6 separate regions of the Homo sapiens genome follow, and regions 1, 2, 3, 5 and 6 are each reported to be linked to region 4. The links are microRNA targets in miRTarBase. Many come from high-throughput screens and were not tested one by one. Region 4 holds a microRNA gene; each other region holds the end of a gene's coding sequence.

The links. Region 4 holds the annotated microRNA hsa-miR-218-5p (UUGUGCUUGAUCUAACCAUGU, at 1,634-1,654, shown strand). A microRNA usually pairs through its seed, bases 2 to 8, with sites in the 3' UTR of a target mRNA and lowers its output. Matches are read on the target gene's strand: a 7mer-m8 pairs with bases 2 to 8, a 7mer-A1 pairs with bases 2 to 7 and ends in A, and an 8mer does both.
Region 1: the mRNA of ARSG is a reported target of hsa-miR-218-5p. Seed matches in the 3' UTR shown: 7mer-m8 at 1,821-1,827.
Region 2: the mRNA of NAV1 is a reported target of hsa-miR-218-5p. Seed matches in the 3' UTR shown: 7mer-A1 at 2,754-2,760.
Region 3: miRTarBase lists PGAP2 as a target of hsa-miR-218-5p. The part of its 3' UTR that is shown has no 7-base or 8-base seed match.
Region 5: miRTarBase lists KLHL31 as a target of hsa-miR-218-5p. Seed matches in the 3' UTR shown: 7mer-A1 at 297-303.
Region 6: the mRNA of BIRC6 is a reported target of hsa-miR-218-5p. Seed matches in the 3' UTR shown: 8mer at 4,392-4,399.

What each region holds. Positions count from the first base shown.
Region 1 is chr17:68,418,865-68,423,953 of GRCh38, forward strand. It overlaps ARSG (arylsulfatase G), which reads left to right. Exons shown (of 12, transcript NM_001267727.2): 12 at 1,325-1,950. The coding sequence ends at 1,599. WIPI1 (WD repeat domain, phosphoinositide interacting 1) reads right to left here. Exons shown (of 13, transcript NM_017983.7): 13 at 2,417-2,956. The coding sequence ends at 2,909. It also overlaps a transcript of PRKAR1A not described here. Among named protein-coding and RNA genes, the nearest start is that of MIR635, 3.1 kb to the right of the region's middle.
Region 2 is chr1:201,819,171-201,824,402 of GRCh38, forward strand. NAV1 (neuron navigator 1) reads left to right here. Exons shown (of 34, transcript NM_001389617.1): 34 at 667-5,232. The coding sequence ends at 762. The region is part of intron 1 of IPO9-AS1 (IPO9 antisense RNA 1); the gene reads right to left. Among named protein-coding and RNA genes, the nearest start is that of IPO9, 7.4 kb to the right of the region's middle.
Region 3 is chr11:3,824,562-3,829,793 of GRCh38, reverse strand. It overlaps PGAP2 (post-GPI attachment to proteins 2), which reads right to left. Exons shown (of 7, transcript NM_014489.4): 6 at 4,666-4,774; 7 at 3,423-4,466. The coding sequence ends at 4,336. It overlaps RHOG (ras homolog family member G), which reads left to right. Exons shown (of 2, transcript NM_001665.4): 2 at 1,588-2,816. The coding sequence starts at 1,656. The coding sequence ends at 2,231. Among named protein-coding and RNA genes, the nearest start is that of RHOG, 14 kb to the left of the region's middle.
Region 4 is chr5:168,764,633-168,769,864 of GRCh38, reverse strand. MIR218-2 (microRNA 218-2) reads left to right here and starts at 1,610; the gene lies at 1,610-1,719. The region is part of intron 14 of SLIT3 (slit guidance ligand 3); the gene reads left to right.
Region 5 is chr6:53,647,985-53,653,216 of GRCh38, forward strand. It overlaps KLHL31 (kelch like family member 31), which reads right to left. Exons shown (of 3, transcript NM_001003760.5): 3 at 1-4,346. The coding sequence ends at 3,614. Among named protein-coding and RNA genes, the nearest start is that of KLHL31, 15 kb to the right of the region's middle. RefSeq lists a silencer at 3,147-3,441 and enhancers at 3,813-3,872, 3,903-4,122.
Region 6 is chr2:32,617,196-32,622,341 of GRCh38, reverse strand. It overlaps BIRC6 (baculoviral IAP repeat containing 6), which reads right to left. Exons shown (of 74, transcript NM_016252.4): 74 at 3,464-4,617. The coding sequence ends at 4,438. Among named protein-coding and RNA genes, the nearest start is that of TTC27, 8.3 kb to the left of the region's middle.

The DNA.
Region 1 (5,089 bases), not on the chromosome of region 4:
AATGTTTGGCTGCTGCTAAGCTCAGAAGCAAAGTCAGTGTTTAGGAACTCTTGTAATTTTGAGGGCTATCTTTTGCTTTAATTCCCTTTGTTTATTTAATTATGTCATATTTATTTCCATCAGACCCTTAACTGCTTTTTCTATAGCAAAGCCAAAAAAAAAAAAAAAAAGTCATCGGAATCATAAAGAGCCAAGGAAGCTGCTATCATTCCAAACATTTTTGTCCTTCCTCTTCTGGATGGCTTTCACAGCCAGATTCGAATCCACGTAAGACTGTCATCTTCAACCCAAAGTGAAATGACTCACCTGCCTTTCTACTTGATTCACCAATTGGTAGTCAAGAAATCGATTTTCAAAAAAATCAAATTTACTCCTAAAGGGCAGAGGTTAAAGATACTTTAAAAAATTATATCCTGGCTGGTGTGGTGGCTCACGCCTGTAATCCCAGCACTTTGGGAGGCCGAAGTGGGCAGATCATGAGGTTAGGAGTTCGAGACCAGCCTGGCCAACAGACCAGCCTGGCCAATATGGTGAAACGCCATCTCTACTAAAAATACAAAAATTAGCCGAGCGTGGTGGCAGGTGCCTGTGATCCCAGCTACTCAGGAGGCTGAGGCAGGAGAATTGCTTGAACCTGGGAGGCAGAGGTTGCAGTGAGCTGAAGATTGTGCCATTGCACTCCAGCCTGGGTGACAGAGCGAGACTCCAACTTGAAAAAATAATTATATCCTGATTTTGTGTCAATAAAGATACTTGAATGAATGTTCTACTGGCCCTGAAGGCGAGTTCAAGGAGAACTTCCAAATCATTTTAGTGTGGCTGCAGTGGTTCCTGCTGATAATCCCAGCATTTTGGGAGGCTGGGACAGGAGGATTGCTTGAGGCCAGGAGTTTGAGACCAGCTTGAGGAACATAGCGGGACCCTGTCTCTGGAAAAAAAAAAAAAAAGTTGGGCGTGGTGGTGCATGCCTGTAGCCCCATCTACTTGGGAGGCTGAAGTGGGAGGATCACTTGAGCCCAAAAAGGCTGAAGCTGCAGTGAGCTAGGATCACGCTACTGCATTCCAGCCTGGGCAACGAAGCCAGACCCTGCCTCAAAAAACAAAAACAGAAATGAAAAAAGCAAAACATTTTGGACCACAGGATCATCACTGGAAGGAGCAAATAGATTCTCAAGGTAATATTTCTTTGACAGAGAGAGCCATCATTGGAACATTTGGTTATCTGGTATGTTTGAATTAATGTAGAATCACTCGCAGCTCTCGTCTTTACAACACAGGGCAACTGTCAGGGTTAGCGAGGCATTTGTTGTCATTCCCTCTCTAGGTGGAGCCAGGGCGTGTGATGGGAGCACGGGGCCTGAGCTGCAGCATAAGTTTCCTCTGATTTTCAACCTGGAAGACGATACCGCAGAAGCTGTGCCCCTAGAAAGAGGTGGTGCGGAGTACCAGGCTGTGCTGCCCGAGGTCAGAAAGGTTCTTGCAGACGTCCTCCAAGACATTGCCAACGACAACATCTCCAGCGCAGATTACACTCAGGACCCTTCAGTAACTCCCTGCTGTAATCCCTACCAAATTGCCTGCCGCTGTCAAGCCGCATAACAGACCAATTTTTATTCCACGAGGAGGAGTACCTGGAAATTAGGCAAGTTTGCTTCCAAATTTCATTTTTACCCTCTTTACAAACACACGCTTTAGTTTAGTCTTGGAGTTTAGTTTTGGAGTTAGCCTTGCATATCCCTTCTGTATCCTGTCCCTCCTCCACGCCGACCCGAGAGCAGCTGAGCTGCGCTGGCTCTGGGCAGGGAGTGTGCCTTAATGGGAAGCACACGGGCTTTGGAGTCAGGCACAGGTGCCAGCTCCAGCTTTTGAACTTGGGCAATTGTTTAACCTAACCTGCAAGTTGATTTTGAGGGTTAAATAAAGGCATACATGAAAATGCCTGGCAAATTACCTGACACAGAGCAGACATTCAATACATTTTAGTTTCCTTGTTTCTCTGGTTCCCAGTTTCTCTGGTCATTTTGGTGTAAATCCATTCTAATTAGTATTTAGGGCAGAGCTTCTCTCTCTTTTCTCTTTTTTTCCTTCCACAAACCAGTGTACTCACTGGTCTCCATCTTTAATATGCAAACAAATCACCTGGGATCTTGTGAGAATCCGGATTCCGTCTCAGTAGGGCTCGAGTAGATCCTGAAATCCTACATTTCTATCAAACAATGCCTTGAGGAGCACAGATTTAGACCAAAGTTAGGTCGTTTTCCAGATCTCAGAGCAGACGAGTCCATGGATAAGTCTGTGGCCCAATCCCCTTCCTCTCCTTTTAAGGGTGAAATGACTGCATTTAAAAGAAGTTAAAGAGTTCCTCCTGTCCCCTATAACCACAAGGAAACAAAAAAATATATAAAAACCTCAAAAATGCATTGCCATGATTTTATTATTAGTGTCCAAAATGGGACTCCCAAGTAATAAATGATTTATTCCAGCCACAGCCAAAAAAGACTTTGCCTGGCTAAAAGAGTCTCTCTCTAAGTATGTAATATACAAGAAATACAATTCAAAGAGATGTTCCTATAAGTACATTTTTTACACGGCATATATTTAAAAAGGAGGCCCCTTTTAATATAAAATTCCGGTTATATACCAATATGGTTAATTAGCATTTACACTATAGTTTGAACGTATTTTAAATAGCATGATGTGTATACAATGTCTCCCGCGCCCATTGGCAACCAGGGTCGTGGGAAGCTTGGTGAGGAGTTAACCAGGTCCTGTGGTTTAAGCAGTGGAGCACCCGGGATTCCTGCCCCCCTTTCTGCTCACACAATTGCACTCCATTCTTCCGCCTTCCTTGTTTTCTCCAAAACCACCTGATAGGGGGGATGTCCTGATTTCTGAGGTGTGCTTCTCATCATGACTGCTTCGTTTTGCCCTTCTGATTTCCACGGCACAAGATTATCTACCAAAATCAAAACAGAATGGCCTTACTCTTCTCAGGAAGAGGCTGGTAGGCAGGTGCATTATCAACAGGTCTGTGCCCATGCAGAGTGAGCAGGGAGAGGCTGGGCACTGTGGAATTTTTCTGTCTGAACTCGCTCATGGCCACAGAATGGTCACCCAGCTTATTTAGGTGTAGACAAGTATGACACAGTTCTAGAAAATACTGACTATAAAAATGTCTCTGTGTGTGTGTGTATGTATTTATATGTATATGTATATATTTTTAAAAGGCTCATCTTACTTGTAAACATGGACTGCTCAATCACTATTAAAAAGTCAGTTTAGGCTGGGCGCGGTGGCTCACGCCTGTAATCCCAGAACTTTGGGAGGCTGAGGTGGGTGGATCACTAGGTCAGGAGTTTGAGACCAGCCTGGCCAACATGGTGAAACCCCATCGCTACTAAAAAATACAAAAATTAGCCGGGCATGGTGGCGCTCACCTGTAATCCCAGCTACTCGGGAGGCTGAGGCAGGAGAGAATCGCTTGAACCGGGGAGGTGGAGGCTGCAGTGAGCCGAGATCGCACCACTGCACTCCAGCCTGGGCGATGGAGCAAGACTCCATCTCAAAAAAAAAAAAGTCAGTTTAGGCTGGGCGCAGTGGCTCACACCTGTAATCCCAGCACTTTAGGAGGCTGAGGGGGGTGATCACCTGAGGTCAGGAGTTTGAGACCAGCCTGGCCAACATGGTGAAATCCTGTCTCTACTAAAAATACAAAATTTAGCTGGGCATGGTAGCATGCCTGAAACCCCAGCTACTTGGGAGGCTGAGGCACTAGAATCACTTGAACCTAGGAGGTGGAGGTTGCAGTGAGTGGAGATCACGCCAACACATTCTAGCCTGAGGGACAGAGTGAGACTCTATCATCTCAAAAAAAAAAAAAAAAAAAAAAAAGGGAAGGTCAGTTTATACCCTTGGGCCTGATTTCCTGACTCTTGCTCACAAGATTGGGACTAGTCTCACAAAATACAGAGACTTGTACAGGTTGGCTTGTTCCTGAAACAAAAGCTTCTCATCCTCCCGAATGTAGCAGCTTTCTAAGGCACCAGAAATGATCAAGTCTCTTTTCTTTCACTGCTCTCAGAGCAAAAGTAAATCCCAAGGAGGCAAGCGTGATCCTACGCAGGGAAGTGTCAGTATGTGTTCTGAAAAGATCACTAGTGATGACCCGCGTTCTTAAGGCAGCGGCTCACAGAGCTCCTGTAGCAGACTACTCAGGCAAGCCTATGTTTGTTCGTCACTACAAGAGAGGCGATTTTAACCAAGCTGAGACTCCAAGAGCCTTTTGTGGTCCTAGAAGATTTTAAGGAATGTGAGTAAAGATGTGAATTCTGCACAGAGATTTGCAATAGGCATGACAATTCAGAATAAGGAGACAGAGAGGAAGTTCCCTAGCATCCCTCGCTGAACATTTCTGCCAATTCAGGCATGACTGAGATGGGCCATATTGATAGAGCATCCCAGGAGCATGCATGCCTCTGGTCCTTACATGGTGAGATGGAGAAGCCTGCCTGCTACTGAGACAGTGCCTTAGTGGGAGCACTGCCCCTCATCACCATCTACCTGCAGGCTGGAGGGCAGACTGAGAGGTTGGTGGCTGCCACGACACAGCCCTGCACACAGGGGCTGCTTGACACTCACAAGGGTCTAACACCTGTTCTAGGGACCTTGTTCAGTGACCACTCTCACTGGCAGGAAGTATTTCTTGCGTATAAATAAGAATTCCTGATGCAATTTCAACCAACTTTCACTCATTTGGTCCTTAGGAGGGAGAAGAAACAACTGGCTCATGCCCAGCTTCCTGGCACTGAATGGGCACACAGGCCTCAGGACAAACTTTCTTACTGGTTCTTCAATTAAGCACCTCCCCTTTTCCTTTTTACCCCAAATAAATGATCTGCACAAGGTACCTATTATTTTATACAGGTTCTTTGGCAAGGAACTACCTCCTAGATACTAATATCCACATTACCCCAATTCTGTAACTATAAGAGGTTGCAAGGCTTACTGCGATTACAATTAAGAATCTAATAATATTTTATAGTAGTTACAGACTTTTACCAAAATTAGTGAAACGGAACCTAGTGAGTGT
Region 2 (5,232 bases), not on the chromosome of region 4:
ATAGCATTTCTCACATTCCTCCCAGTATTCGTTGGTATGTTCAGGCCTTCCCTCCTCTCCTGGAGTGCAAGCACCCTGCAGGCAGAAGTGGTCTCATTCTTTTTTGGTATTCCTCCATAAATGGTACCTTGTCCCTTGTATAGCAGGCATACTCCCAAGTAATTGTTGTACATACACATGTGTCACAGTTATCATTGAAGAAATCCTCATTGCCTTTTCACAAACCACTCTAAACTCTGAGCTCTTCATCACTGAGAAACCAAGGATCAGACCCATGATCTAGATTTTTTTTTTTTTTTTTTTGGAGACAGAGTCTTGCTCTTTCATCCAGGCTGGAATGCAGTGATGATATCAAAGCTCACTGCTGCCTCAAACTCCTAGGCTCATAGGCTCGAGTCATCCTCCCACTTGGGCTTTGGCATCCTGAGTAGCTGGGACTGTAGTTGTGTGCCACCACGCCTGGCCAGTTTTTTATTGTTTTATTTTTATTTTTTGGTAGAGTCAGGGTCTCTCTTTGTTTTCAAAGCTGATTGCAAACTCCTGGCTTCAAGCTATCCTTCCACCTTGGCCTCCCAAAGTGTTGGGATTTTGTTGTTGTTGTTTCCCTTCTGTGGGCAGGACCCAGAGTCCCAACTCTCATAAATCCATCTTTTTGCCCCCCTTTAGATGGCCATGCTGCTGAAACTTCAAGAAGCTGCCAACTACATTGAGTCTCCAGATCGAGAAACCATCCTGGACCCCAACCTTCAGGCAACACTTTAAGGGTTCGGCAATCACTGTCACCCCCGGACAGCAGAACGCTGGCATCAGCTATCTTAGCTCCTCCTCTCCCCTCTCCTCTTTCAGAGCACTGGCTCTCCAGCCCCAGGAGGAGAACAGGAGGGAGGAGGAGATGAAAGAGGAGGGACAGGTTCTTGGTGCTGTACCTTTGAGAACTTCCTAGGAAGGAATGGTGGGGTGGCGTTTGGGAACTTGTGCCCCCTAAACACATTTACTGGCCTCCTCTAATGACTTTGGGGAAAAGATGATTCTGGGTCTTTCCCTTGACTTCTTGTTTCAATTACAAACTCCTGGGCTTTCTGGGGAGGGGTTCAGAAAACATCAAAACACTGCAGCAGTTCCTAAATGATTCTCACAAGCAACCCTGAGAGAGACAGTCTTGTGAGGGAGATCTGGGGGAGGCAGGAAGCTCCTCAGATTTTCTCACAGACCCTTCCCAATTCCATCACCACTGCCAACAACTCCTCCCCCAGAGATCTGGCTGGAGCCCAGAAAAAGAAGCATGTGGTTTAAAAAATGTTTAAATCAATCTGTAAAAGGTAAAAATGAAAAACAAAAACAAGCAAACAAACAAAAAACAATGGAAAAGATGAAGCTGGAGAGAGAGGAACCAGTTGCCAAGGTAGAGAGCTGCCCGCTCCTGCCCTCTGGATGACATAGGGGACATCAACAAGACGGCTGCCAACCTGAGAAGTCACCAAACCACAAAAATAACCTTACAGCCTTCAGGGAAAGACTACCAGCTCTGTCTTTCTACCCTCTAATTTAACAATGCATAAGAGTCAATAAACCCTACTTTTTTATTTTTGGTTTTTATTTTGTTTTCATTTTTTTCTCCCATTTGCCTATTTATTTTTTTGTTTCCCTTTTTTTTTTCTTTTTCCGTTTTTCCATTTCCTCACATGTCCACGAGATGCTTGGGTTGCTTTTCCAGGGGCTAGTTTGGCTTTTCCAAGTGGGTTTTCTTTGGAGAATCTGATGCCATGCAATTGGCATGACACCTGCCATGCCACTATCTTTGGCATCCATGGGGCTTATATGAGACATGAAGCATTGGCTCAGAAGTAGAGGGAGAAGAGGAACCCAGTTCCCTTGACTTCCCTTTTGAGAGCACACGTTCTGCTGGGTAGCTCAATTGCCAGCCTCTGTCATGAGAAGGTATAGCCCCATCTTGATAGAAGAGTTACTCCGAGCTTTATCATGGACCAGAGGAAAACCAGAAAACTGAAAACATTCCTCTGTCTTGTGGCCAGTTTGGCCTTTCACTGCACTATTCTGATGGTGCCTGACTGAATCCAAATATCCTAGCTGGCTCTTACTATTTTTCACAAATGAGTATTCACATATAAGAGATGAACATCCATGTGAGATCATCCCAATCAGAATATAAGACTCAAGGAGTTTGACTTGGTGGCCAATACCTGCCTTCCAAAGAGATCCTACCTTTGCAGATTTGCTCCTTTCCCATTGCCTTGAAGGTCTGGCAATCCCTGTTCTTTCATTTGACAAGTACTTACTGAGTACTCACTATATACAAATCATTAGGTTAAAACAGACACACACACACACACACACACACACACACACACACACACACACACAAGACCTGGGCCCTTAAGTTTACAGTCCAGCAGGAAATGTTAACCTCCATTCAGCTACGCCCCCTTGTTATCTAGACCTTCGGGATCATCTAAGAAATGTAGCTGAAACCCAAGGAGCCAGCTAGAAAGAAGCTTTTGATTAGATGTACAATACATTGGGGGCAGAAGATCTGGGATCAATTAAGATGGAGCCTGAAGGACTATGGAATCTTGCTTGTCAGGAATGGGCAAGTCTACTTCCTGCCATTTCTGAAAGCCCCGCGGGACCAGCTTCTAGGCTGAGCTGCCTAGTAGGCTGAAGCTTCAGGACTCTGCAGGTCAAGGATATGTGATGAGCACCGGCCTAAGTGTTTGCTCTTCAGATTCCTAAGTAGCACAAGACTTTATCAGAATCTATAGGCATACCAACCTGGATCACTCTTCCACCCAACCGAGGAGTAGATGCATCTGAATCTTCATATCGGTATATTAAGTCCAAAAGATGGTCCGGGCTGCCCCTCACAAAAGCTTCTGCATCCACGTGGTAAGCTCCCATGGATGACAGGGTTCTGTATGATGGAGACTATTATTGCTATTGCTGCTAATTCCATGAGCTGTGAAGATCCCTAACCAACTCAGCTGTAACATATGCAATTCTGTGGTGGGAAGAGGCTGTGTGTCCAAGGATGGTGCTGAAATCACTGCCTTAAGGTCTCTGCTGTGCAGAATGAGGAGGCCCCCGAGCTGGCTGTTCTAACTTAGAAGGAAGAGAAGACTGGATGGGCCTGCTTGGGATCTAGGCCTCTTCTAAACCCTATCCTAAGCTCCAGTTCCATGGCAAGGCTCAGACTTTTAATGCCATCTTAATCTGATGGTTGAGCGCTTCACTCTATTTTCTGGTGCTGCCCAGCCAGTGCCTTCTGCCATGGATGTTACTGGCTACTTGAGAAAAAGGAGAGGGGAGAACCCCTTCTTTCATTCCAACTGCCTCCGACCCCAAAGGGATTCTTGGCTCTCTGGTAACCATGGATACCACCATGAATTTTATTTGGATCCTCAGCAGGTTGATTCTGGAGGCCTCATGCTATGACTTTTTATTTCTCTTCCTGGGATCCACCACCCTCTACTCTCAGCTGACTGCTGCATTTAGGCCAGGTCTCCAATTGCTTTCCTCCAGAAAGTGTGTTCCCGTCTAGTGAGGTAGTATTGAAGCCTCGGCTTTCCCTCTGGAGCCTGGGACCCTGTTTACAGTTGCACATCTGGGCCCCTCACTGTGGGGATTGATCATTCTCATGAAGGAATCACAGTTATATGGCAACTGCAGAAGGCTGAGCCTCCTCATGGTGCTATAACCCCTTGGGACACTCATCCAGACTTCTCTGAAGCAGAAAACCTGAGCTCCCCACTCACTGCCCTAGAATTTATGGCAAGGAGCAAATCTACAGCATTCTCTCCCACCTACGTCCTGCTTCTTGGTTGAGACTACTGGGATCCTTCAGAAAAGAAACACTGGGTCCCATAGCTAAATTCTCAACCGCCAGGCACCTTCAGAAGAATCCAGCCTAATACTGGAATTTGTGCTATTATCTTCCTCTCCAGCCCCCCAACTCCATCCCTCACCACAGTTGTCTAGGAAATGACATGAATTCAATATCTAATGTCAACCAATGGGGAGAGCCACAACTCCAGGAGAGGTTCCTGAGCTGAGTCCCTTAATTTCTGGATGAAGAAGACCAACAAGTTTTGTCCAATGTATTTGTTTCTCAGACCTTGCCTAGGCACTAAAAATAAAATACTAGGTCATTGGAGGCTAATGTGGGACCTGATGTCTGCGTGTGTGTGTGTGTGTGTGTGTGTGTGTGTCTCCCTCTCTCACACACACAAGAGCAGTTTGCTGTTGCTGTTTCCTACCTTCTGAGGCTTCAAAGTATTTTTTAAAATCTATGCTTTGTGGCAGCTCTACGGTGCTTATCTCTGTCTTTGTGTCAATCCTTAAGTACCCATGTCTTTTTCATGTCTAACCATTGGGAAGGTAGAGGCTGGCAGGGAAGACAAATCTGCTACAAGTCCATGGGAAGACCCTACAATGAAATGTTCATTGGTTGGTATACTGTTTTAGTCTTGAATTGCCAACTTTCCAACTGATCTATCCATATTCCTTAAGTACTAAAGACAAAATAGAGGGCTTCTTTTTCTCTCTTAATGTCTTGCCTTCTGGTTTTCCTGGTTTGCAAGACTAAGTGTACCTAATCTCACCATCTCTTCACTTCTAGCTCTCTGAAACAAGGGTCACACTACTCAGAGGGATAACCCCTTACAGTGGTCTGAGGAGTAACTATTTCCTAAAGTATTCTAAAAGAGTAGGAAGAGAGAAATGGTAGCCTGCTGCTTCTCACAGACACCTCACATCCTCACTTGGGATGGCATCCACATAGAAACCCTGCATTTAGGTAAAATTTGCCTGACTGAAGGGGACTCAGTCCTCCAAATCAAGGTCAAGAAGATATCTGCATGAGACCTTAAGAACTCTTTATTGCCATTATTTGGAGAGGGCGGGGGAATTGTCCTAATCACACATTTAACACAGGGAATAAGTGCTGAAGTGACCCAGATCACCAAGCGCAGTTCCTCATCATACTTTATTTTTGCTTTCCTTATTCCTTGGCACTGACTAAGCTAAAGTTAAGAAGCCGACTTCATAAGCCAACCCCTGTGATGGGATGGAAAAATGGGCTTTTGCAGAGGGTTTATTAATAGAGATGGATATACTACTCACAAGTTCTGGCTCATGGCTCCACTGAGAAGGCCATAGTAATAAAATGATCTTATGAACACTGTTCCCCAAAGGCCAAAGCCTGAAGATATTGCCCCT
Region 3 (5,232 bases), not on the chromosome of region 4:
GCCTGGGCGACAGAGCAAGACTCCGTCTCAAAAAAGAAAAAAATTTGCTCCACCCCACCAAGGGCCTTGAGAGAAGATACTAATGTCTGGGAGCCTCAGCCTCTACCTCATTCATCATAACATACCCAGACCCCAGTCCAAATCCCAGGTCCAACTGAATCTCCAGTATTCCCCTGCATTGAATTGGCAATCTGAGTGTACATGGCCAGATAGGGTTTTCAGTACTTACAAGAATGATGGGGTGGCCAGGTGTGGTGGTTCACGCCTGTAATCCCAGCACTTTGGAAGGCTGAGGCAGGTAGATCACCTGAGGTCAGGAGCTTGAGACCAGCATGGCTAACACGGCGAAACTCCATCTCTACTAAAAATATAAAAATTAGCCGGATGCAGTGGCACCTGCCTGTAGTCCCAGCCACTCGGGAGGCTGAGGCAGGAGACACTTGAACCCAGGAGGCGGAGGTTGCAGTGAGCTGAGATCACGCCACTGCACTCCAGCCTGGACGACAGAGTGAGACTCCATCTCAAAAAAAAAAAAAAAAAAAAATTTCCCCATTGCCAGAATACCCTGGATTGGGATAGGGCAGCTCTCTAAAGAATTGAGCCCCTTACTCAGCAGGTTTCTTAACTGTGCCTTTGGGTTTGTACTCAGTAGCCAAGATACCAGGTTTGGAGAGGGCAGGGTGGGCCCTGAGTTGAGAGAGGTTCTACTTATGGCTGCATCACAGAGTGACCTGGGACAGCTGTCCTGTGCCAAAACACTTTCCAGTCTCCTGGTGGAAAGGGTCCATATTTAGTAGAGGATCTAGTAGATCCCTAAATTTGTGCACTCTCCTTTTGTGTCTGTATAGCCTGGAAAAAAAAAATAGCTAATACTGGCCAGGCGCAGTGGCTCACGCCTGTAATCCCAGCACTTTAGGAGGCCAAGGCGGGCGGATCACGAGGTCAGGAGATCGAGACCATCCTGGCCAACACGGTGAAACCCCATCTCTACTAAAAATACAAAAAATTAGCCGGGCGTGGTGGTGGGTGCCTGTAGTCCCAGCTACTCGAGAGGCTGAGGCAGAATGGCGTGAACCCAGGAGGCGGAGCTTGCAGTAAGCCGAGATGACGCCACTGCACTCCAGCCTGGGTGACAGAGTGAGACTCTGTCTCAAAAAAAAAAAAAAAAAAATAGCTAATACTTGTGGACGAGGCACTGTTTTAAATGCTTTACATGTATTATATAATGCTCACAATGACCCAGTGAGGTAGATATTATTTTATCCTCATTTTACTGGTAAGAAAACTTAGGCATACAGAGGTTAAGCAATTTTTTCAGGGTTACACAGCTAGGAAATAGCAAAATCAGGATTTGACCTTAGTTTGTCTGGCGCCAGAGTTTATGTGCTTTCTACCACATTATACTGCCTCTTTGCTTGGCCTCAGGGCCTTTCATTGTGTGTCTTTCTGATGACCGTCTTGATGGGACTTTGGGATAGTGTCAGGTTAAGGGAACAGGAGCCGGTTTCCCTTTGTGTGCCCCCATCTTTTCTTCCCAATAGGCAGAGGCCTCCCTAACCAAGAATGTCCCCTTTCATCTGTCCACAGGTCACTGCAGCCAGAGGGGTCCAGAAGAGAGAGGAGGCACTGCCTCCACTACAGCAACTGCACCCACGATGCAGAGCATCAAGTGCGTGGTGGTGGGTGATGGGGCTGTGGGCAAGACGTGCCTGCTCATCTGCTACACAACTAACGCTTTCCCCAAAGAGTACATCCCCACCGTGTTCGACAATTACAGCGCGCAGAGCGCAGTTGACGGGCGCACAGTGAACCTGAACCTGTGGGACACTGCGGGCCAGGAGGAGTATGACCGCCTCCGTACACTCTCCTACCCTCAGACCAACGTTTTCGTCATCTGTTTCTCCATTGCCAGTCCGCCGTCCTATGAGAACGTGCGGCACAAGTGGCATCCAGAGGTGTGCCACCACTGCCCTGATGTGCCCATCCTGCTGGTGGGCACCAAGAAGGACCTGAGAGCCCAGCCTGACACCCTACGGCGCCTCAAGGAGCAGGGCCAGGCGCCCATCACACCGCAGCAGGGCCAGGCACTGGCCAAGCAGATCCACGCTGTGCGCTACCTCGAATGCTCAGCCCTGCAACAGGATGGTGTCAAGGAAGTGTTCGCCGAGGCTGTCCGGGCTGTGCTCAACCCCACGCCGATCAAGCGTGGGCGGTCCTGCATCCTCTTGTGACCCTGGCACTTGGCTTGGAGGCTGCCCCTGCCCTCCCCCCACCAGTTGTGCCTTGGTGCCTTGTCCGCCTCAGCTGTGCCTTAAGGACTAATTCTGGCACCCCTTTCCAGGGGGTTCCCTGAATGCCTTTTTCTCTGAGTGCCTTTTTCTCCTTAAGGAGGCCTGCAGAGAAAGGGGCTTTGGGCTCTGCCCCCCTCTGCTTGGGAACACTGGGTATTCTCATGAGCTCATCCAAGCCAAGGTTGGACCCCTCCCCAAGAGGCCAACCCAGTGCCCCCTCCCATTTTCCGCTACTGACCAGTTCATCCAGCTTTCCACACAGTTGTTGCTGCCTATTGTGGTGCCGCCTCAGGTTAGGGGCTCTCAGCCATCTCTAACCTCTGCCCTCGCTGCTCTTGGAATTGCGCCCCCAAGATGCTCTCTCCCTTCTCCAATGAGGGAGCCACAGAATCCTGAGAAGGTGAATGTGCCCTAACCTGCTCCTCTGTGCCTAGGCCTTACGCATTTGCTGACTGACTCAGCCCCCATGCTTCTGGGGACCTTTCCTACCCCCATCAGCATCAATAAAACCTCCTGTCTCCAGTGGCCCCGGCTCCTCCCTGTGTGCTGGGCATTAGCGGGTGGGCATGGGCTAGGGCTCCCCAGAGACTGGGAGCCTTTTGTTTCTTCTAGTAGACAATAGGCTTCATTGTGGTCCCCTCACCCCTCAATTTCCCTAACAAAGCTCTAGGCTCCCTTGGAGGGGGCAGTCTTGCTCTGGGGCCCAGTCACAGATGCTGTAGTGGACTCAGACACAAAACCTGAGGAAAGACTTCTTGATCTTAGGGCTCAGAAAGGGAGAGGTTCAGAGCCATTAGTCTAAAGGCAGATGCTCCCACAGTCATGCATGTGACAGCTGTACCTCACATCCCCAAGAGGACAGCTTTAACAACAAGAGTTGGAATTTGAACCCAGGTCTCTGTCTCAACTGAAGACTTCCAGGTACCCTAGCTTGCAGTCCTAGAATCATTACAGATAGCTCACTCACTCCTGCTCACCAAAATAAAGGCTTAGACCAGCTTTAGGAGACTCCAGACCTAAGGGGGACTGGGGGGTTCTGCTAGGAATCATACCCTGCCGTGGACTTACTCCCTCCCCATTCTTGAGCCTGTTTCTCTCCCAGTTCCTATCAAACAAGATGAGCCCCAAGACTAGCAAGCCTAGGCAACTGTTGGCCCAAAAAAAAAATTTATTTTCCTTTCAAATAAAATGTACAACCAAAATTTAGGGTTTGGAGCAGTAGGGAAGACAGGAGATACCAGGGAGCCCATTTTACAGTAGAGATCTGCATCTGACCCCTCTATCCCATACCTTTGCAAAGGAGGGGAGGGGTCTACAAGCCAGAACTTTCAGAAGAGAAGAAAATACATGCTGTGCTGGTGCTGTTTCTGGAGCAGGTCATCCTTTAGGTATAGAACACCACCTCCACCCGATGACATCAGAACCACTGACTGGTAGAGTCCTTGGAAATCATACAGTCCACCCATCCCCCGCCAGACACATGGACACACCGAGGCTCAGATGGGGAAGGGTACATACCCTAGGGCACACACCAAATCAAAAAGGTGAAGTCAGGACTAGAACACCTGAGCAACTTTAGCAGGGGACTGTGGCCACAGGCCTGGATGTGCACAGTAGATCATGAAATACATTAGTCCTATGAATGACCCCCGTGCAGAGAAATGGCTGTGGTTGTCAGGGAGCAGCCACTGCTCAGGGGCTCCTGACCTCAGTGAAAGGTGACTGTGTAAAGGCCAGAAACTGGATGGTGGTCATGAACCTCAGGACGTTTTTTTTTTTAGCACCAAATGGTGGAGCTCTCTGCCAGCTCAGCTTCTTGGGGCCTCTCAGGTAAAGGTGATGTTTGAGGACCCCACGCCCATATGAGGGGTGGAGAGGAGAAGCCAGCAGCACTGGGGTGAGCCTTGGCCTACACCCTTCCTTCTTACCCTTCCCCCATCTTCAGTAAGGCCAAGAGAGGATGTGGGGTGGGGAAGGCCAGAATGGTATCGTGTTTCTTGTTTCTGGGCAGTGGGCTGCGTCCTCCCAAGCAGGACTGAAGGGTTCAGAATCGCTTTTCCTCAGGCTGAGAGGTTATGAGCAGCTCCTTGTTCCCGAAGTCCCACCAGGCCGTCATGTGGAACGCCATGTTGGTTAAGACAACAGTGTACTCCAGGATGGCAAAGATGGTGTACACTGTTGTGAGGACACAAGGAACAGGACATGGTGAACTTCCAGCTACCCGCTCAGAGGCCTCTTGATAAATCACACCACCATTGGTCTGCCACAGAGAACACAATGGCAGCCAGTCCCCAAGACCATTGCCCATTATCAAAAACATCATTGCTGCCCCGCAGCCACTCATGACCGCCTGTGGATCCTATCCTGGCCTCACCTCCAGCCTCACAATACATGTTGTGCCGAAAGTAGACAGCCAGCGCCGAGAAGAAGGAGATGAAGTTGATGATGAAGAGCCGCTGTTTCCAGCTGTAGGACTTGCGATCCTAGGGAATGGGCTGTCTGATCACTCTGCAGCTTGCTGGGTATGAGAGCGTGGGCTCCCCTCTCAGCCCTAACTCCTAAGGGCTGGGCCTTATCTCCCTTGGCTCCCACTAGCGGTCATGGAAGGGAGCACAGGCAGGGGCAGCAAGAATGACGACTATGTGTTCACGTCCCTGCCTCTGGGGGAGTGATGGGCCGAGGAGCAGTGGTATTCCTGCCGCTTCCACTTCAGGGGGATGGAGTATGAAAGTTACATGGAGTCACCCACCAACCCCACCTCCAAATACTGTGGGGGAAAAGAAACCCATGTACATGGGTGGGGCGCTGGAATTATGACAGACCAGTCCTCTGACACTGTTCCTAACTCACTGCCGCCTAGATGCGACTCCTCATTCTATCCCCATTTGCAGCCTCCATCTCTTCTATTCTCCAGTCTCCCACACTACCCAAACACAGTGCT
Region 4 (5,232 bases):
GTATTGAGTATTATTTTTAGGGCAAGATCTGAAACCCAGGACTTCTGACATACTGTGAAGACTCTTGATAATTTACCTACAAATCCCTCCATTTCTTTTTGTAGGAAGAAACCAAAGAGAAAGAAAATTAGATTTTAAGGCTTGGTGAGGGTGGCGGTTTGCACGAACAGGATGGATTTCCCCTGCTCTTGTACCAGGGTCCTAATCAAACTCACATTTGAAGTCCCAGAACCACAGTGTTCACAGAGCCCTGCATAGGTGTCAAAGCAGAGTGGAGTCCAGATTCTAGTGGCTGACTCTAGTGCGTGTGATGAGAGACCTTAGGAAGGAGGAGAGGCCAGACAGACCCAGAGCTGTGGGCTGGCTCTTCCTAACTGGTCCAACATGGCAGACAACCTATGCACCGTTGAGATGCTGAGACCATCTAGAGGATATGCCCAGTCCCAAAAACACATAGTGGAAGAATGTTGATACTGGTTCTCATGTCAGAGGTCAGGCAGGGAGGGTCTCAGTCACTTAGCCTTAGCTCCAGTTTCTTCAAGATGCACATCTCCAGCCTAATGCCAAGTGGGAGGAAGTCCCAAGTCAGCAGGTTCATGGAAACTGACCCTGATCTATCACAGAGAGGAATATAAAAACTGGGTACCCTCACCTGGGCCTTTGGCATCCTGACAGTGGTTATTGGTTCATCCTGTTCGCTCCCATAATTTCCAGCTAAGGAAGAGAACAAGAAATCAAGAAGGACCCCAGAATTCAGTGTCTTCCCCTCAGACTCATCACTTGGCTTCCCTTTCCTTCCTTCTCTTAGTCTCAAAGAGGCCCTTCATCAGGAGGCGCACTGGCCACCATCTCTGTGAAAGTCAGTGTTCTCAAACAACAACTATGATTGCAGGTTCCTCAGTCCAAACCCTACGGCCCCATTTGTTTTCCTGTCTTTCTCTCTGGCTAGAGAGATATATTTTCTTTTGACACCCCACTGCTCCTCTATTAAACCTCAAATGATCTGGGATGAGTGTCTATCAGCCAGAGCATTCCTGCTGACCTCAAAGGATATAAAGGAGACTCCTGAATTGTGGAATGTCAAAGGGGGCTTTTTCCTAAAGAACAGCATTGAAGGTTTGCTAGACCACTGGGAACTGTGGATTGTCTCTTGACTTAAGGGGCTAGAGGAATGACTGTGATGGAACCACTCAGCTGTTGGGGGGATTGGGCCTATGTTGCAAAGCATGCAGAAGATGCTTTTCTAAGTTTAATGTCTTGTCAGACCAACTGGTGTGACTGAATGGAGTTTAGAGGCTCAATTCAGGCATGTGATAGGATCACAGATGTCTGAGTGTTCTTTCTTTCCTTGGGAAGGAACCATGCTGTCCTGAAGCTCCCGAGTATGGGCATCCAGTGATTTCCCTCCCGTTCTTCTCCCTTCCTACTGTGTCTCCCTGGGGTGGGGCACAAGGGCAGCAGGGCTGCAATCTTCGGAAGTGTTCCAGTGGAACCCCACTCCTGATACTAATCACGCTCAGTGGGGGCCTGCTCCGGCTTCCGCTTCTCCACGCTGCTTCCTCTGAGCGCTCCTGTCCTCTCTCTGACGCTGCTTCCTGACCTTGACTCTGACCAGTCGCTGCGGGGCTTTCCTTTGTGCTTGATCTAACCATGTGGTGGAACGATGGAAACGGAACATGGTTCTGTCAAGCACCGCGGAAAGCACCGTGCTCTCCTGCAGCATGGCCCGCCACCGCCGCCACCACCGCTGGACACCTCTCCTCTGCTCTGGAGCACCGCAGCCCACCACCTGCCAGACCCACCTCTCCCAGTCTCAACTCACCAAAGGCAGGAGGGTAGGAGTCTCAAAGGATGCAGATACAGAGGGAAATGGGTCTGGAGAAGCACCCTGGGGAAAGAGATCTGTATCCACATCTCTTTCCCAAAATGGAGTCACCCTCCCCCAAATCTAGTCTGGATGTCAGACAAGGAGTAATAACTAGGTTCAAGCTCAGAAACTACTGTGTCTCTTCTTCCACTGGAAGGGAACAAGTATACCCAAGGCATACGCCCCATGGTTTCATGGGAGAGTCCCAACCCAAGGTCATTTTTCCAAGTGGCAGCTAACCCAAAGGGGAATTCCTACTGCTTGTGACCCCCGACCCCTCCCACCACCACCTTTATTGGTATTCACTTTATTTGAAATGAACGTCAGCATGAGAATGGGTGAAACTCATGTGAGTCTGAGACTTTGGGTTTAACCCAAGGTTCCTTCTGAACCTCATTCCCATACTTTATGAAAACACAGTCCCTGAACCCCATGAAACCTAAAGTCCAGTCTGTTTCCTTGACCTGCAAAGCACAGTTAACGTGGAGGTGCTGGGCTCCTCACCTGGTGCTAATTCTGTTTCAGGGGAGGGGAGTGTGTGTGGACGTGGAAACCTGCTATCTCTGATAATAAAGAGAGGGATCTTGGTACCTCTTATTTTGCTTGTTCCTTGATAAATCCTAGACCCAGTGTAACCAGAAGACTGTGTTGTTCATTCCTGTCCTGGAGTCTTTGTCCTATTCTGCAAGAGAGAGCTAAGGTGGGAACTTTAGCCTAGCTCAGAACTAGAAGCTGAGCCCTGGGCCCCCATCATGAGGTGTGACTCTTATTACCTCGTCTATCTGAGGTTACCCCTCAGAACCAGGAGCCCAACCATTGCTTAGTAGTTTTTTAACATACATTGAGTGCTTGCTATAGGCCAGGCAGTGAACTGTTTTCACATCATTACCTTGTTTAATGTTCACAAAATCTAAAGTCCCACTTTACAGATGAGGATATTGAGGCTCAGAGAGGTTAGCTAACTTACCCAGGGTCATCTGATTCCAGAATGGCTGCACTGTACTGCTGTAATACCCACCTTCCCAGCTGTGGACAACCCCATTGCCTTGAATTAGAACATTTAAAAACTGTGATTTGATAGGGACTTGAAATTTGCTTAAACTCTCCCTTTCAGACTTTCATCTGTTAGTAGAAAGAACTTGAGTAAGAGAGAAAGCATTATTCAAATGGCTGTTCCTCTCCAGCATGGACATACAAAGATCCCATTTAACACAGAGCAAATCCTCGAGCCTGGAGAAGTTCCCTTTCCCACCTTACAGAGAGGGGCATTCTGAGGCCCTCGGCACTGCCCCTAACATGGCAGGGACCAGGCCTCTGGGAGTGGGTCCATAATGGTGCCCTTCCATCAGTGCTTTACTGGCCCCGCAGCCACAGGCTGTGATGAGGCAGTGCCAGCCTCAGACCATGGGTATTTCCCTCTGTTTTCAGGCAGATGGCTGCACTCATAATAGACTCCAAAGGGGATAGCTTACTAGGACGGCTCCCTGCCCAACTGGTGACCAAACTCCTAGTAAAACAGTTGGCATCTTCCAGCCACTGGCAGCTGGTCCCCCAGCCTTGCCCATGAGTGGATGTCTGTGTGCCTGGCAGTGTTCTCCTTAGTCATTCATCACTTATGACCCTTTGCTTATTCACATCACTGTCTTTTCAAGCTGATGAGGCCTGACAGGACTTACGCTCCCCCCAATTCCTCTTTCTGCTTCTTTCCTCCTTTCTTTTATTCCACTCATCTTAGGGATATTGGGAATAGGGGAGGAGAGCTCTGGAAACATGAGTTAGCAAGTCCATGATGATCAGATAACAATGAATTTATGACTCCCAGTCAGCAAACTGGCTGCCCAAAGGATGATACAAAATGCATACCGTTGATGGCAGCAGCCATCCTGGACCTGGTGCTGGCCTCTGATCCCAACCCAGCCAAGTCCATTCAAACATGGGAGCTTGGCTCCCTACCTGTCCCACACCCCTGGTCATCCAAATGTGACAAGTGTTCCTCCTGGGAAGTGGCTGTAGGACAGGGATGTATAATAAAATTGTGTTGCTGTAATTTCCACCTCCTACCCCCACCCCCCCGTCTATTAAAGCTTGTCTGTGATCACGTACCAAGTGTCGTTGTTCTGAGCTGCCCGCGAAAGGGGAGGAGGGCTCCAGGGGCAGGAGCAGGCAAGATGCCAGATGACATCAGCTCTTCCAAGGCTGGTTTCAGCCGAGGTTGAGTTTTATGGCCCTTCTTCAAATCCTCTGGGATCTCTTCTGTCTGAACTCACCCCAAAGAGAAGAAGCAACAGCCTATTGCAGTCGGTCCTCTATTACTAAGTATTTCTGGCAGTGACAAATATGCACTGAGATTGAAATTGACTTTTAAAGCTCTGGAAAAGTTAAAAATACTTTGGGGTAGTTATGAGCATTAGGCATAACAAATGGCTCTGAGAAACCCTGAGTAGTTTCGGTAATGAAATATGAAGTGATGGAGATGGCATTTCGGGCTGGCTCTGACTGGGGAACGAACTTTTTCGGTTATGTACATACGCCGTTATTAACATTTCTGGCTCCCACTCGTATAAAATATCACATTCCGACCCCCTTGTTATTACAAACCAGGGCAATAACAAAAACAGCAGGGGGAAAAATGCTGGAAAGAACACATTAGTCCATCGAATCTAATTGCAAAATCATTTCATTAAAATGGGTCAGCGGCTCCATTGCAGAGGTCCACCAGTTATAATCTAACTATACTACTGAGAGCGATTCCTGCTAACTACAGGCTGCTCTCACCTTGATTAAAATGAAAATGCATTTAATAGGCGGCTGTCCCCAGCCACAGCCCAGCCGGTGCACGCCTTCAGGCTCATCGCCTTGAAGAGCAAACTGTTCTTCCTCCTGTCTTTCTGCCTTTGATCAGCAGTCAGGGTTCCTTCGCTTTGCAAGGATCCCATTATAGACACATTGTGAAGGAAAAATCTCTGTATGTGTGTGCAATGCCCCTTCGTGCCATCACTCTGTGGATCCACTGGTGCGGAGAACAAGAGAAGGTAGTCATCTGACAGGGTTTGCAAAATGAAATTCGCCCAGGACTCGGCACGCTGATGGGTCTGGAAGAAAATGGTGCAGGTCAGAGTTACCAAAAGGGACGAAGCTGGCAAGCCAAGGGCAGGAGATTTGCATAATACAATGAACCAGGAAGCCACTCGAATAACTGTGGGGATACGTGCACGGAGTTTGCTCACACAAGCCTAGCGGTAGAAGGGGAGATGGAGGAGCGGAAATGGAGAGAGAGCAGAGAAGGAAAGGAGGACAGGACCAGGCTTCTGACTCCCTGTCTTAGGTAGGTAGTGTCACATCAGAATTAGAGACCCACCAAGTTC
Region 5 (5,232 bases), not on the chromosome of region 4:
TTGTTGTTCCTTATATAGTACCAGAATGTTTTAAGCAAAGAAAGAAATTTTTTTGCCAAAATTTGCTGAATAAATAAAAAGTTTTTAAAGAATATCCAGGACAAATAATTTATTTCAAATTCCCTGAGAGGGCAAATTAAATGGTCTTTACCCAGTGAATGTGCTGGAGGGTAAATCTTTAATATTTTAGATTGTTTAATTCTTATAATTACGAATAAAGGACTGTTTGGAAAATTATTCTGTAGGTTTTTTGGCATGAAAAGAAATACTGAAAAGTATTTCCTTTTAATGCTGCCTTGTGCTGGAGAACATATTCATCAGCGGCTGGAATAGGGATGTAGTTCATTCAGAGATTACATAAATTCATTTGGTTGTAACTAAGGGAAAAAAATTAATGAGGTGATTTTAGTTTATTTCGTCTCGTAACTTGGATGAGTTCTGAAGACACTTGGCCAGGATAACCAGCAAAAAAATAAAATTAAAAAATTGACCTTTTAGAACGTACATATTTCCAGGTAAACCTCTATTTACATGTGTATTTGTAAAATACACTTACTACAACTGCTGCTTTACCTTAAATCATAGAACCATTCAGTACTCACTTCCTCATGACATCAATTATACCTCCTCACTCATAACACTTCACTACCATCTAATCATGTTTTAAAATTATACGAATCTGTACCATCACTGACCTTCTATTCAAAACCATTCTTACAACATAGGAAGTAAAAATAAAATTCATTCAATGCACTGAAAGCAACTAATGCATCAGGGATGACAACTTGGCACCAAGAACCTAACTAAAAATGGACAAAGTATGTTAAAGTTTGGCTTCCTGGAGACTTTCTCATCAGGTCTCTGGCCCATTTAGAAAAAGAGAGCTTGAATTTTATTATTTCAGTTGCTGGGTAACATGCAATTTCCCTGATATATTGAACTGATGCTTTTATTTGATCACAGGACTCAGCCGTTACAAAAATAACAAGTCATTTTCTTTAATAAAAAATAAAAGGAAGTATATGGTTGGGTCCTAAGACTCTGGAGTAATTGAATGTAAGCTTAAAACATACTAAATATTTTCCACTTGGGAAATCTGGAGAAACTAGGTTTCTAGGAGCAACTGCTTCAATAGTTGGTGTAAAGAATATGTTTCACTTACACATGAAAGTGGACACATATTATTTTGATTCTGCATACTTTTATGTCTTTCAATTGGCAATGCAAGATGTTCCAGGATATGAAACTTTCACCGACCCTTACATTCCATACTCCTCGCCAATGTGTTATGTCAGAAATTCTGACATTCCAAATTCATATTGGTCTTTATTTTCCTAACTGTTGAAGCAGAAGATAGAACAGCAATGCACCCAAGAGTCTGGTAAGCTCAAATATGTGGATTTTCTGAGTCTTCAGATAAACAATGTAGAAAATAAATTAAATGGTAATTTTAAATGATTTATCCAGCACTAACATGTCTCCAGTTTCATCTCTAGAAAGCCACTGCCAAGTTTTTGCACAACCTAATTTATCAAGCTTTGATAGATGAAAAATCCTCTAGTTTCAGTATCTCTTCTCATTATTCCATCATGTAATGTTGCAATTGATTGATTCTCATTTCATTTCAAGCCCTAGGTCCTCCTCTTCATACAATACTTCTAAGATGTCAATGGGAACACATCTATTGGTGTGCATCAAGGAATTACATCTATTCACTCACTTATGATCTGTAACCCACAATAAAACACCCTTTTCTCCAAAAATTAACCATATACTATAGGCTTCTCAGTTGTATGAGTGTGTGCGTATACACACATATACATACACCAAGGTAATATACCATATCCACATATACCAAGGTAAAAGATTCTTTGTGTGGGATAAGGAAACAGCCCAGCGCTTTTACATTAATAATATCTTGTTCTTAATTTACAGCGTTTGTAGCCCTTACCTGAGTGTTATCATTAAATATCCAGAGATTGAACTTTTCATCGGGGTAATGATATAAAATTGTTCCACAAAGTGTACTATATGAACCACTTTTCACAGTTCAAATAACATATTTTAGAAATAAATATCATAACTAGCAATAACCTATCTACACAAGGTGGAGAGGATGAGATTAACAAAAACCAAATTATATTTCCATATATCTCATGTTCAATTCCTAAATAGCTTGTTTTATTTTTCAAAATCCAATTGCACATAACCCATAATTGATAGGCCACTTCCTCTCCAAAACAAATAAACTGTCAAAGAATAAAGTGATAAATTATAAAAAAGGAAAATATGTATCATTTACTACAGTCATTCCCTTTCCCCAAAACTTGGCAAACATATAGGAAAAGTGCTATCAAGTGGGTACACTTTGATTATAAATCCAAAGCTCATTTGGAGCAGATGAGATTAATAAAAATAGGACAGAATGAGTATATATTTTTATATACGTGAGATGAGTGCTTGATTTTTACTTAAGAAATCAGGAGGATCCATATTAAATGGGAAACAATGGCATTTATCAACAGGAGAACCCATTCATCCAGTTACTACCAAATCTACAAATTCCAAATGTTTCTATCATTCTTATCATATAAAAGATTGGGGCAAATAAAATTATTGTTATTGGTTGTGTAAACTTCAAGCTCTCTAAGCTTAAGGCTAATGGTCCTTAGGGACATAGTTTTATTTGGTGATCTTCGCGGGGTGTACATTAGGGCCAAGGTTGCCTTTAACCAGGTTGGTGTAGTTTTTAGGGTGAGGGTAAGGCTCCCAGGGTATGTGAAATTCTTCTTTAATAGAGGACAAGGGATAAAATGCAAATCCTTCTAGTTGAAACAACCAAATGACTTAAATTTATGCTATAAATTAAATGATTCATATCAATTACTTCATTGAGAGCATGATTTTATGGTAGAAAATAAACTGGGGCCTGAGGCATGGAGGAAGAGGAATGTCCGCTAACACAAAGGTTATCAAATTTAGGGTCCCTGGGTGGAATCCCTATTCCTTTTCGGTCAGATCTTGTTTTAAGCTTTATTACGTTGTCATGGGATATCTTTCAAAATCCTTTACTCAATCACATATGGGGGGAAAATTGCGTTGAAATACAGAATTAAATCTTAAGTCTTTATGGAGATCGACAATTTCCATTTTTAAATAAATAAAATCTATATGAATATCTTCAACTTCCTAAAGAAAAAAGAGAGAGAGGAAAATAAACTTTTGAACATGAAATCACTTACATAAACCTCAAGTGTACTAACGTGTAGAGGAAAAAATCTCAAATGTGGGTGTAACCGCTATACATTTAGGAAACATGCCGCCTTGGGAGAGTGCCTATAACGAATTCCGTCTGCCACCCAGTGGCCGCTGAAATAAATTGTTTCTTTTGTTGGCCATTGCCCTGTATTTTGCTAAAAAAAAAAAAAAAAAAAAGAGGTAGATTATGCCATACCAGGAATTTAAAGCCATCAGGACATGTGCCTCGACATATTTTACAATACAATCAGTGTAGTAAATGTTAAATATTTTCCTTTTCGCGAACTCAGAGGTTAACCACGTGGCTCTACGAATAAATAACGTGTTCTTCCTGCGTCCCTGCATCTACCTGGGCTCAGATACTGACTGGCACAGAAGATACCGAACTGGCCCGGGATTCCCGAGTCACGTTGTTGGGCATCGAGAGGGTGCAGCAGGACACGCCGACAGTGGCCTCGGGTAGCTCGTCGTCCTCCGTCCACTCGTTGAGCTCGGGGCTGAAGCACTGGATGCACTTCTTGTACTTCTTCTCGCCCTCGTTCCAGCCCCCCACCAGGTAGGCGCGGCCATGCAGCGCCGAGACGCCCGCAGTGCTCACTCCCACCTGCAGCGGCGCCGCGTAGCTCCACTGGCCGGTCGCGGGGCTGTAGCACTCCACGGTGAGCACGTCCACGCGCTCCCCGCGCGGCCCCAGCTGGCTGCCGCCCATCACGTACACTCTGTCGCTCAGCGTGACCGCGCAGTGCCAGCCCCGGGGTGTGCTGAGGTTCGGCAGCTCCTGCCACGAGTCGCTGGCCGGGTCGTAGGCGCACACAGAGCGCGAGTAGGCGTTGGCTATGTAGCCTCCGGTCACCAGCACGCGGCCGTCGGCGACCGCGCTAGCGTGGCAGCAGCGCGCCACCTCCAGGGGCGTCTTCGGCTGCCACTGATTGGTGGAGGGCACGTAGCACTCCAGCGAGGCCAGGCTTCCTTCTGCGTTGCGGCCGCCCGCGGCGTACACGAGCCCGTTGAACACGCTCAGGCTGAAGTGCGTGCGCTTCTGGTTCATGCTGGCCAGGTGTATCCAGGTGTTGAAGCGGGGATCGTATCTGGAAATGATAGAGAAGGTGTAACAGCTTTGTCGGCGGCAGCTGGGGACCCCATGTTACTTTGCAAATCATGAGTGGGAAGCCTGACACTACCCCTGCAAGGAGGCGAGGGACCTGGCCCAGCACCTCACCTGGAGGCTGGAGTTTCTCTCTCAGCCAGTAAAAATGTGTGACACTTGGAAAAGACAAAGCAGGCATTGACCACCCCTCGCCCCCGTTTATAAGCCTCTCCTCCGTTTATAAGCACTCCCTTTATGGGGCCACTTGGAGAAGAGCCCACAGAGACTGAGCTTTCAGTCCCCCTTTCCTCCATATTCAAATATCTATCATCCAGTGGGATTTACGAGATGTGCACATGGGGGAGGCTGGGCATTTGTGACGATCAGAGGAGTGGCGATCAGAGAAGGGCATCGCCATATTAAAGTCAATTCTGCATATCCTCAGATGCCAACCATTCCTAGCTCCCTGTCACAGTTTAAGATACGAATTGACTGACTGGATTTCTCCATTTCTCACAAACCCCTTAATCCTACACCTCTCTTGGCCATTGCGACAGTAAAGCCAAGCCACTCAGCAAAGTCTTCTCTTGTCTGTTAGACTGAGACCAATAGAACTGTCTAAAAGCATCAACAAAGGCTTAACTTTGGATACTCTTCTATTTTCCAGCACTTGTCAGTAGAGAAGACTTTTTAGTTTAGGGATAAATATATATTTTTTTCAGTGCTCGGAACTATCCATGTATAAGCACTGCAATCAATACCTCACAAAGCGACTCGAGTACTAAAAGGTGTCTTTACAGCAGGAGGAAAATAAGCATAGTGAACTGATGCTTTCCTGTTGACATAGTTCAGAAGTATTGTAAATACAGAACTCACTCCTTCAGTCT
Region 6 (5,146 bases), not on the chromosome of region 4:
AGGAAGCAATGGAAAGCAGACTTTTGGTGGAGCTCATGGGAGCACTACGAGATCACATCCAGGAACTAAGGGAGAAAGAAGGCCAGAGAATGCCTCTTCTATACAGGAAATGTATAGGCTCACAGGGTTCACGTCAGCCCCTTTAGAGCTTGAAGCATCAGGAGGCTAGAAGCTGAGAGAAAGGAGGCTTGGATGGCTGCTAGAAACTGGGCAGAGTTTGAAGAGGAAAGAGAAAGCAGGATGGAGCTTCCTTTCAACATGGCTTGTATCTTCCATCCACATGTGGACTCTGGCTTGTCACCACCATACCTGCCTCTGCAGGGTGCGAGATGGGAAGCAGCTCAAGCCTGTTGCAATTCAGTTGCAGCGAAGCCTGTAACAATACCAAAAATCAATCTCAGTTAGAAAATATATAGCCTTTTTTTTGCCTTTGCATAGGGAATAACTTCAAAGGAATAAAATGCAATTAAAATCAGAAAGGAACAGATCAATAGATGACTTCACGATTTAAATTTTTTTTTTTTGAGACGGAGTCTCGCTCTGTCACCAGGCTGGAGTGCAGTGGTGCGATCTGGGCTCACTGCAACCTCTGCCTCCTGGGTTCAAGCAAATCTCCTGCCTCAGCCTCCCAAGTAGCTGGGACTACAGGCGCCTGCCACCACGCCCAGCTAATTTTTGTGTTTTTAGTAGAGATGGGGTTTCACCATGTTGGCCAGGATGGTATCGATCTCTTGACCTCATGATCCACCCACCTCAGCCTCCCAAAGTGCTGGGATTACAGGAGTGAGCCATTGCACCCGGCCGGCCCCACAATTTAAAACTTCTATGAGAAAAATTAAACAAAAATTAAAAGGCCATCTGGACAAATACACAGAAGTTTGACAAAAACTAATATTCTACTATAAGTAGCTGATACATACTAAAAGACTCTAAGAAAATACACAAAATAGGGAAAAGGTATAAACTGGTAACTGACAAAAGTAGAAATTCAAATGGGTAATATAAACAATGTTCAATGCACATTAAAACATGTTTGATGATAATAAAATATCAGATCAAAAAATTATATAATCTCCAATGCTGGCCAACGCATGACAACACTAAAAGATTTTCCAAGTGTGAATCAGTACCTCTCAGGAAAGCGGTCATTATATATCAAAACCTTTGACCTAGGAATTCTACTTCTAGGATTTATCATAAGAAAATAAAGATAAGACCATGCTCATCACAGCATTAGTTATAATCAGAAAAGCAGAGACAAAAGCAATTCCAAACTGTCCAACAGTAAGAGATGGGTTAAAAACATCCATTAATTTTCTTTTTAAGACACGGTCTTGCTGTTGCCCACAGTGGAGTGCAGTCACGTGATCTAGGCTCACTACAGCCTCCATGTCCTGGGCTCAAGCAATCCTCCCACCTCAGCCTCCCGAGTAGCTGGGACCACAGGCATGTGCCACCATGCCCAGCTAATTTTGCTATTTTTTGTAGAGACGGGGTTTTGCCATGTTGCCCAGGCTGGTCTCAAACTCCTGAGTTCAAGCAATCATTCCGCCTCAGCCTCCCAAAGTGCTGGGATTACAGGTGTGGGCCATCATGCCCAGCCTACAGTACATTTTACATTTGTCTGACTTTGGAGATTTTTGTCTTAATGCTAGGAAAGTATTTAAGCAGTTTTACTTTTTGTTTTTTTACTGTTCATTAAGATAAAAACTTTATATAGTTAAAAGTTTCACAAATAGACCAATTCACTTTACTGATTTTCACATCTCTTCAAGTTCTCCGCATGTGCTCTTGGACCCAGGTCATTTATGTCTGTTAGGCTTTGCTCCATCCTTCCCCAAGGACTTCTCCCCTGGCTCCCTAGCCTGAAAACATGCTAAAGTTATTCTCCTAACAAATATATGTATTTCCCAAAGTCCTGTCAATTGTCTCTTAATCTCCACAGTTTATGTGCCCTAGTTTATGACCTATTGCTTGGATGTGAGCAGGCTTTTAACTGATCTCCTCGCTTCTCAACAGGTTGCAGAATGATCTTCCTGAAATAGACTAATCAGGTTACTTCCTTAGAGCTACTTGTGAGCTCTCCTTTACCTACAGGAAGTCAAAGTTCCTTAACAGGGCAAGCAAAGGCCTGGGATGAACTGACCCCTCCTCTCTTTCCAAAACCACTGCCTCCCATCCCTTTTGACTATCCTCACTTTGCCTGTTAAAAATCCAGTAACATCCAATATGGTGCCATCAACCTGAGCTCTCCTTTTGCTCTCCTGTGTCTGGATTATCTTGTTTCTGCCTGGCTAACTTCTTTATCCTCATCCTTCAAGAATTAGTCTGCACTTAGAAAGCTTTTCCAGACCATTATCACCTCAGTGCCCACCCAACGTTTTGCCTGAGATAAGGATTCTCCTCTGTGCTCCCAATATTACCCTGTAAATAACTCTACCAGAGACCTTACCAGATGGCACTGACATGTTTTCATGTCTGTCATTCACTCCTCAAGTGCAGGAACTTGGAACTAGTAAAAAATGAGTGCTCAAATGTTTGTTGACATAAAGTCTGGATCTCAAATGGAATGTTTTAATGTAATTGGTTCCAATTTAGGTGTTTAGACTTTGGTTTTTAAAAAATATGAACTGGACCTTATAGTACTGGTATTGTTACTTTCATTTTACATGGAAGACAAACAATACATTTGATACAGCTTTTATCATCCAGCACTCACAGTCCAAAAACAAACAAAAACAACAAAAAATAGCCTAAAGGATTAATGACTGTCCTTTATTATTGCTGATAATTTTATACTTAGATTTTAGCTGGCATGTCTGTGGGTGACATAATTTTTTTCTTCTTGTAAACTACCACTATTTTGTCATTTTCGGTGTAGCTCACTACCCACCAGACCTAACACTATGTGTTTTAGAATCTTTGATTTCCTGTCCAAATACTATTCGTTTCTCCTTTTTCCATGCTGAAGGAGCTTTATACTTTGTACATAAGAGAGTATCATTTCCCCAAGATCCCCTTTTTCATCAGAGAGCAACTCGCCTTTCAGAATACGGCTTCTCCTGGTCAGCTCCAGATTCAGGCGTCAGCTCCAGTTCCTGCCTCAGCCTCCTGAGTAGCTGGGATTACAGGCACCTACCACCATGCCTGGCTAATTTTTGTATTTTTATAGAGACATGATTTCATCGCATTGGCCAGGCTTGTCTCGAACTCCTGACATCAGGAGACCCGCCTGCCTTGGCCTCCCAAAGTGCTGGGATTACAGGCGTGAGCCACCGCGCACAGCCGCCACTTTTATTTTATAAAAATACTGTCAAAGAATCACCTTAGCCTTTCCCCTGCGGCAACTGGTCTTGGAAAAACATGCTTTGTTTTCCCATGCTTAAGTCTTGAAAGTGTTCAATTCTTTATAGAAATAGCATTTCACACCATGGCAAAGGGGTTTAGAAACAAGACATACTAATTCACCTAAGTCTTTATTTATTTGGCTCTAGGAAGAATTTGCATGAAAATGAGCCTGTATGGCAGGTACAGAATGTACTGTAACAGCACCAGAGAGGTACATCCTCTCTCCTCTACAGAGCCTCAATGTTTAATACATACATGTGACTTTAGTCATAAAACCACATAGTCCAGGAAAAAAGGAGCCCTTTAGAAAAAAAAAATCAGTTTAGAATGACTTTCAAATTGACCATTCCTTTTCAAATACTTAAATTCAAATAACAGATACATTCAGAGGCCCAAATGTTGGCATAGAATAAAATCATGTTCATTTATTTTTTTCTGCATCTTAGAATTAGAAGGCATAAAATTAAATATGTTGAATGTAATAAATTCATCCATACAAGTGCAAGTCTCCAGATATAATGCATTTTATGGCAGATTTATTATTTTAAAAATGTACCAGTAAATCAAAAAAGAGGGAGTATGTCCATTTAACTTTTATTGAAGTGTATGTAGGAGGTCTTCAGAAATCAAATGTGAGCATGAAGATATGGCCAAACATAAAATCTATCAAATTCAGTGAAAAGTTGCTGACTTTAAATAGTAGTTGTAAGAATGACCAATATATATTCTTTGTTAACAACCCCTCACTCTATAGTAAAAAAAAAATAAAATAAAATAAACATTCAGTAAACATTCTTTCCTAAGGTAGTTTCCCTTATATAGCAGTGATTTATCCATTTCTTTGTATACACAAATTTGTTGAACATACCAATCAGTGGTTCTCACAATTGAAAAATAAAAGCACAAAAAAGTTTACACTCCTGTACAGGTAAATAAAAGATCACCTTGAATTAAACTGGATCTCCTTAAGGGCATAGTATAGTTTCAGTTTCATTACCTATTACATAATTAGTTTCTTACATACAAATATTGACATATTTGGCTTGTGCTTCGAAGCCTTTGTGTCTATGAAGTCCACATCAATGCAGCTCATAACTGGAAGTCACTGGGGAGTTCTTTGCTGCTGCTGGGTTTAACCTGATCATGCATTAGAGTCTCCTCAGCACCTGTTGTGGCTCTGCACACCTCTGGGGCATCGTCAGTGTCAGGATCCAAGCCTTCAGGGCAGGGAAGTTTCAGCAACTCTTCGCGGAGCTGAGCAGTGTGACGCTATGCAGGAGAAAAGGACTAATGTTAGAACTGCAAACCCTCTAGCACAACATCATTTGAGGCAGGAACTGAATTTCAACAAAGCCCAAAGCATTAAGCCTACAAATATTTACTGAGCCCCTCCTTATGCAAGCTACTGTTACAGGCACTTGATATAGTAGGTAAGCAAAACTGACAAGAATCCTTAACCTCAAAGTAACCGATGTTGCTGAAAAGACCTCAGTAACCCACCAGTAGATCCTACCCATGCTGCCAAGCTGTCACAGAAACAGCATTACTGACAATTTAAAGGACATTATTAGATACATATACTCTTTTTTTTTTGAGACGGAGTCTCGCTCTGTTGCCCAGGCTGGAGTGCACTGGCGCGATCTCAGCTCATTGCAACCTCCGCCTCCCGGGTTCAAGTGATTCTTCTGCCTCAGCCTTCTGAGTAGCTGGGAGTACAGGTGGGCGCCACCACAACCAGCTAATTTTTTGTATTTTTAGTAGAGATGGGGTTTCACTATGTTGGCCAGGCTGGTCTTGA